Linked DNA regions of Homo sapiens. The protein of the gene in region 2 purifies or fractionates together with the protein of the main gene of each other region. This does not show direct contact. Each region holds a gene or a part of one and is shown on either strand. Other genes may lie near its edges.

What was found.
Region 1: the proteins of PPP1R14D (region 2) and LANCL2 purify together in Homo sapiens (affinity purification with mass spectrometry; one large-scale study listed by BioGRID and IntAct). This does not show direct contact.

What each region holds. Positions count from the first base shown.
Region 1 is NC_000007.14:55,399,643-55,403,459, forward strand, and holds part of LANCL2 (lanC-like protein 2), read left to right. Parts: intron 1-314; coding exon 315-462; intron 463-1,531; coding exon 1,532-1,678; intron 1,679-3,817. UniProt on the Homo sapiens protein: Necessary for abscisic acid (ABA) binding on the cell membrane and activation of the ABA signaling pathway in granulocytes.
Region 2 is NC_000015.10:40,818,542-40,822,358, reverse strand, and holds part of PPP1R14D (protein phosphatase 1 regulatory subunit 14D), read left to right. Parts: intron 1-3,817. UniProt on the Homo sapiens protein: Inhibitor of PPP1CA. Has inhibitory activity only when phosphorylated, creating a molecular switch for regulating the phosphorylation status of PPP1CA substrates and smooth muscle contraction.

The DNA.
Region 1 (3,817 bases), on a different chromosome or scaffold from region 2:
TGCAGTACCATTTTTATTTAAATTTTAAATCACTTTCTTTTACTTCTGGATTTCAAAATAAAATTTTATGGTTTAAAATAGATGTAAAGGTAGAAATTAACAGAAAGATGTTTTGTTTTTAATTTTGACATTCAAAAGGGGACTAGTAAACTGGAGACGTTTTTGTTGTGTTCTGGATTTGGGAGTATTTTTAAAAATAATTGTTTTAAATGTAAAATAAATAATAGGTAATTCCTAAAGCAACAGGGTTAGTGTTTCAGGAAGAAGTACTTTAGACTTCCACTGGGAAAAAATTAATTTTTCTTATTGGTTAGACTTTTGCAGCTCCAGAGATCGGTTGTCTGCCAAGAATCAGACCTTCCTGATGAGCTGCTTTATGGACGGGCAGGTTATCTGTATGCCTTACTGTACCTGAACACAGAGATAGGTCCAGGCACCGTGTGTGAGTCAGCTATTAAAGAGGTACTATGGGGTATGGGTAACTATGGGCGTCTCTACCATTCAAACCTATTTGCTAGCATTGAGTTGTATTAACAGCTGGACTTTACTTCTAGGTAGCATTACTTTTTTAAAGCAACTCATCAAAAGTAAGAAATAGTCCCTGCTTTTTTCTAGGAACATTAACAAAAAAAATCTGTACTCTCTTTCATCTTGTATTAATTTATCAGTTTTTACTGGAGCTAAACAGCAGCAGCTTCAGAAAGTTAGAATGTTTATTTATCTTTCGTGAGATGTCTCAGCTGGTAAGCATTTCAGGCTGGTATGAGTGGGGACCAGCTTCTTCTGTCTCATTCTGCCTTATCCTAGGGGCATACCCTTATTTGCAGGACCAAGGCTAGTTTAGCCCCTCAGCCTATGAAGGGAAAAGAGGAGGTGGAGGCAACGCAGCTTCCTTGTTAGGGACTCAGTCTCCAAGTTGCCCTCTTTACTTCTGCTCCCATCCCAGTGCCAGAACTTCATCAAGTGTCTGTGTTCAGCTGTCTCTAACTAGGGAGCCAGATGCCCAGCTAAAACTTGGAATACTTTCCCAAAAAGGATGAGAGGAGATAGACGTGAGGAAACAGTCATCCCAGACATGATATTCTGTTGATCTAACTGAAATCCTTCATGCCACAGCAGACCTCATATCATTAGCCTTTTATAAATAAAGCCAGTTCCTCCAGCCTTTCCTGATAGGTGTATGTGCTGCTCTTTTGGGAAAAATACTGCAGCTACGAAGCAACTAAGAAATCCAAAACAGTTTTATAAGAAGTTTTTCTAGATTTTTCGTTGACTTTTTATGCAAAGAATTTTTTATTTCTTAGACAGTATCTTTTCCTACTCTGACATTGGCTCCTGATTTCTTTTTGCCTGCATTTATTAATTTATAAAATAAATATAACTATATTAGCTGCTAACTGCTTAAAGACTTTTAGATTAAGGCTTCTGCCTCTCTCTCTATATATGTCATATATATATGACATACTGTTAATTAGACTACAACAGGGTACATATACAGTTTTAGATTTATGCTGTCTTGTTATCTCTGTAGGTAGTCAATGCTATTATTGAATCGGGTAAGACTTTGTCAAGGGAAGAAAGAAAAACGGAGCGCTGCCCGCTGTTGTACCAGTGGCACCGGAAGCAGTACGTTGGAGCAGCCCATGGCATGGCTGGAATTTACTATATGTTAATGCAGGTAGGTAAGAATACTCTTACACACTACAGTATATTTGATCAAACATGAAATGGGAAATGAATCCTGCATATAAACAAAGCAGTCTGGATTGAAATACCCTACTTTGAATCGCTGATGCGTAACTCTGCCACATAAACCACAGGCAGTGGATTTCTAAGAGTCCAGTGAGTTCCTGAGTACATTTGGTATGGAGTCTTTTTTTTTTTTTTTTTTTTTTTTTTCCAATTTTCTTTTTTTTTTTTTTTTGATCATTCTTGGGTGTTTCTCGCAGAGGGGGATTTGGCAGGGTCACAGGACAGTAGTGGAGGGAAGGTCAGCAGATAAGTGAACAAAGGTCTCTGGTTTTCCTAGGCAGAGGACCCTGCGGCCCTCTGCAGTGTTTGTGTCCCTGGGTACTTGAGATTAGGGAGTGGTGATGACTCTTAACGAGCATGCTGCCTTCAAGCATCTTGTTTAACAAAGCACATCTTGCACCACCCTTAATCCATTTAACCCTGAGTGGACACAGCACATGTTTCAGAGAGCACAGGGTTGGGGGTAAGGTCACAGATCAACAGGATCCCAAGGCAGAAGAATTTTTCTTAGTACAGAACAAAATGAAAAGTCTCCCATGTCTACCTCTTTCTACACAGACATGGCAACCATCCGATTTCTCAATCTTTTCCCCACCTTTCCCCCCTTTCTATTCCACAAAACCGCCATTGTCATCATGGCCCGTTCTCAATGAGCTGTTGAGTACACCTCCCAGACGGGGTGGTGGCCGGGCAGAGGGGCTCCTCACTTCCCAGTAGGGGCGGCCGGGCAGAGGCGCCCCTCACCTCCCGGACGGGGCGGCTGGCCGGGCAGAGGGGCTCCTCACTTCCCAGTAGGGGCGGCCAGGCAGAGGCGCCCCTCACCTCCCGGACGGGGCGGCTGGCCGGGCGGGGGGCTGACCCCCCCGCCTCCCTCCCGGACGGGGCGGCTGGCCGGGCGGGGGGCTGACCTCCCCGCCTCCCTCCCCGGACGGGGCGGCTGGCCGGGCAGAGGGGCTCCTTACTTCCCAGTAGGGGCGGCCAGGCAGAGGCGCCCCTCACCTCCCGGACGGGGCGGCTGGCCGGGCGGGGGGCTGACCCCACCACCTCCCTCCCGGACGGGGCGGCTGGCCGGGCAGAGGGGCTCCTCTCCTCCCAGTAGGGGCGGCCGGGCAGAGGCGCCCCCCACCTCCCGGATGGGGCGGCTTGCCGGGCGGGGGGCTGACCCCCCCACATCCTTCCCGGACGGGGCGGCTGGCCAGGCGGGGGATGACCCCCCCACCTCCCTCCCGGATGGGGCGGCTGGCTGGGCGGGGGGCTAACCCCCCCACCTCCCTTCCGGACGGGGCGGCTGGCCGGGCGGGGGGCTGACCCCCACCTCCCTCCCAGACGGGGTGGCTGCCGGGCGGAGACGCTCCTCACTTCTCAGACGGGGCGGTTGCCGGGCGGAGGGTCTCCTCACTTCTCAGACGGGGCGGCCGGGCAGAGACGCTCCTCACATCCCAGACGGGGCGGCAGGGCAGAGGCGCTCCCCACATCTCAGACGATGGGCGGCCTGGCAGAGACGCTCCTCACTTCCTAGATGGGATGGCGGCTGGGCAGAGATGCTCCTCACTTTCCAGACTGGGCAGCCAGGCAGAGAGGCTCCTCACATCCCAGACGATGGGCGGCCAGGCAGAGACGCTCCTCACTTCCCAGACGGGGTGGCGGCCGGGCAGAGGCTGCAATCTCGGCACTTTGGGGGGCCAAGGCAGGCAGCTGGGAGGTGGAGGTTGTAGCGAGCCGAGATCACGCCACTGCACTCCAGCCTGGGCACCATTGAACACTGAGTGAGTGAACGCGACTCCGTCTGCCATCCCGGCACCTCGGGAGGCCGAGGCTGGCGGATCACTCGCGGTTAGGAGCTGGAGACCAGCCTGGCCAACACAGCGAAACCCCGTCTCCACCAAAAAAATACGAAAACCAGTCAGGCATGGCGGCGCGCGCCTGCAATCGCAGGCACTCGGCAGGCTGAGGCAGGAGAATCAGGCAGGGAGGTTGCAGTGAGCCGAGATGGCAGCAGTACAGTCCAGCTTTGGCTCGGCATCAGGGGGAGACCGTGGAAAGAGAGGGAGAGGGAGAGGGAGAG
Region 2 (3,817 bases):
AAATTTATAAAAATATTTTTTTCTTTCTTTTTTTTTTTTAGAGGCAAGGTCTCACTATGTTTCCCAGGCTGGACTTGAACTTTTGGGCTCAAGCAATCTGCCTGCCTTGACCTCCCAAAGTACTGGGATTATAGGAATGAGCCACTGTGCCCAGCCTATAACATTTTTTTTCTTTCTTCAGTAATAAGCTAACTTCAGATTACTGTAACTTTTTTACATTATAAACTTAAAATGTTTTTTAAAAAATAGAGATGGGGTCTGCCATGTTGCCCAGGCTGGTCTCGAACTCCTGAACTTAAGCAATCCTCCCACCTCAGCCTCCCAAAGTGCTGGGATTACAGGCATAAGCCACTGCACCTGACCAAGACTGATACTTTTTTAAAGGCAAAGTTCTAATCATTAGAGTGTGTTTTGTTTGTTTGTTTGTTTTTGAGACACAGTCTCACTTTATCGCCCACGCTGGAGTACAGTGGTACGATCTCGCCTCACCGCAGCCTCCGCCTCCCAGGTTTGACTGATTCTCCTGCCTCAGCCTCCCCAGTAGCTGGGGTTACAGGCATGCACCACCACACCCGGCTAATTTTTGTATTTTTAGTAGAGATGGGGTTTCGCCATGGTGGCCAGTCTGGTCTCAAACCCCTGACCTCAGGTGATCCGCCTGCCTCAGCCTCCCAGAGTGCTGGGATTACAGGCATGAGCCACCACGCCTGGCCTAGAGTTTATCTTTATTATAATGCCCACTCACACCCTCTGAGATTCCAGTTACAGATGTTAGACCACTTGATATCCATAGGTCATCGAAGTTCTTTTCTATTCTGTCCTCCCCCACTACCCTGCCCACCCAGGTTTTTTTTTAATCTGTGCTTCATTTTGGCTCATTTCATTTGCTATATCTTCAACTGACCTTTTTTTTTTCCCCACAGTGTTAAACATGCTGTTAATTCTATCTAGTAAGGTTTACATTTAAAATATGCAATTTTTCTTCTCTAGGTGCTCCATTTGGTTTTGTTTGTTTGTTTGTTTTGAGACAGACTCTCACTCTGTCACCCAGGCAGGAGTGCAAATGGTATGATCTCAGCTCACTGCAACCTCTGCCTCCTTGGTTCAAGCAATTCTCCTGCCTTAGCCTCCTGAGTAGCTGGGATTACAGGCATGCGCACCATGTCTGGCTAATTTTTGTATTTTTAGTAGAGATGGGGTTTCACCATGTTAGCCAGGCTGATCTCGAACCCCTGACCTGAGGTGATCCCCACCTCGGCCTCCGAAGTGCTAGGATTACAGGCGTGAGCCACGGCACCCGGCCTGGTTCTTTTTTTTTCTTCTTATTTTTTTTTTAATGGAGAAGAGTTCTTGCTATGTTGCTCAGGCTGGTCTCAAACTCCTGGCCTCAAGCACTCTCCTGTCTTAACCCCCACCAAAGTGCCGAGATTAAGGCATGAGCCACTGTGCCTGGCTGGTTCTTTTATTTCTTTCTTTATTTATATTTTTATTTTATTTTGAGACAGAGTCTTGCTCTGTCACCCTGGCTGGAGGGCAGTGGCATGATCTTGGCTCACTGCAACCTCCACCTCCCGGGTTCAAGCCATTCTGCTGCCTCAGCCTCCCGAGTAACTGGGATTACAGGTGTACGTCAGAACACCTCGCTAAATTTTTGTATTTTTAGTAGAGACGGGGTTCACCATTTTGGCCAGGCTGGTCTCAAACTCTCAAACTCCTGACCTCAAGTGAGCCGCCCATCTCAGCCTCCCAAAGTGCTGGGATTATAGGCGTGAGCCACTGTACCTGGCCTGATTCTTTCTTTTATCTTCTGTATCTCTCATTACTGTGTTTATGTTTTCCTTGTCTGCTAATTCTATCATTTATGTCTTTTCTGGCTCTGCTTTTTAAGTTTTTTAATCTAGGCCAGGCTCGGTGGCTCACGCCTGTAATCCCAACACTTTGGGAGGCTGAGGTGGGTGGATCACCTGAGGTCAGGAGGTAGAGACCAGCCTGGTCAACATGGTAAAACCCCATCTCTACTAAAAATACAAAAACTAGCCAGGCATGGTGGCAAGCACCTATAATCTCAGCTACTTGGGAGGCTGAGGCAGGAGAATTGCTTCACCCTGGGAGGCAGAGGTTGCAGTAAGCCGAGATCGCACCACTGCACTCCAGCCTGGGTGACAGAGCGAGACCCTGTCAGCAAAAAAAAAGGGCTGGGCACAGTGGCTCATGCCTGTAATCCCAGCACTTTGGGAGGCCGAGGCGGGCAGATCACCTGAGGTCAGGAGTTCGAGACCAGCCTGACCAACATGGAGAAACCCCATCTCTACTAAAAATACAAAATTAGCCAGGCGTGGTGGCGCATGCCTATAATCCCAGCTACTCGGGAGGCTGAGGCAGGAGAATCGCTTGAACCCGGGAGGCAGAGGTTGCGGTGAGCCGAGATCATGCCATTGCACTCCAGCCTGGGCAACAAGAGCAAACCTCCATCTCAAAAAAAAAAAAAAAATAGCAATATACACTGGAAAATACCATTAGACTCAACTATATAAACACATACATGTATTTCCCCAACAGCACCCCTCCAGCACAATAGCTATTTCCATCATATGTGGAATCTAGGGTTAATCTGAATTCAATAAGTTAAAAAGAAAGAGTTCTTAAATCAGTAAGAAAAAAACTGAAAATCTCAACAGAAAAATGGATAACATATCAGTTCTTGAAGTGTGGTCTAGTGACCCATGGAGGTTCCTAAGAACTCTTTCGGAGATTCCCAAGAACTCTTTCGGAGGTTCTGTGATTATTTTCATAATAACGGTAATTTTTTTTTTTTTTTTTGAGAAAGAGAGTCTTGCTTTGTCGCCCAGGCTGGAGTGCAGTGGCGTGATATTGGCTCACTTCCCGAGTTCAAGCCATTCTCCTGCCTCAGCCTCCCAAATAGCTGGGATTACAGGCACACGGCACCATACCTGGCTAATTTTTGTATTTTTAGTAGAGATGGAGGTTTCACCAAGTTGGCCAGGCTGGTCTCGAACTCCTGACCTCAAGTGATCCATCTGCCTCAGCCTCGCGCCTGGCCAATGCTAAGATTTTGTTTGCCTTTTTCAGTACGTTGACATTTGTGCTGATAATGCAAAAGCAACAGTGGCCCTTCACATGAATCAAGAAAGTGGCACTAAACTGTACTAGTAGTCGTGTTCTTCACTACTACATCGTTTTCACTTAAGAAAGTCCTCTTCATCTGTAAAATGGGTAAATGAAAAGATAACAGAAAGAATGTCCTTGTTGAAGCAGTAAAATATTAATTTTATTAATTATATTTGAGCTCACGTCCTTTTTTAATAGACCTATTTTTTAGAGCAGTTTTAGGTTCACAGACAAATTGAGCATAAGGTAAAAGATATTTCCCATATCTCCCTGCCGCCACATATGTATAGCTTCCCCCACTATCCCCCACCCAGCAGCAAGGTTATATATTATTTGTTACAATCAATGAATTTACACTGACAACATTATCAACCAAAGTCCATGGTTTAAATTGGGCTTCACTGTTGGTGTTGTACATTCTATGGTTTTGGACAAATGTGCATGACATGTATCCACCGTTATAGTGTCATACAGAAGAGTTTCACTGTCCTGAGAATCCCCTGTGGTCTACTTGTCCCTCCTCCCTCTTACCCCTGTGGCAATCACTGATCTTTTTACTATCGCCATACTTTTTCCAGCAGGTCTTACTGTTGGGATCATAGAGTATTTAAGTTGGCTTCTTCTTTTTTTTGAGACAGGGTCTCTACTTTTCTGCCCAGGCTAGACTCCTTGGGACTATACAGGTGCA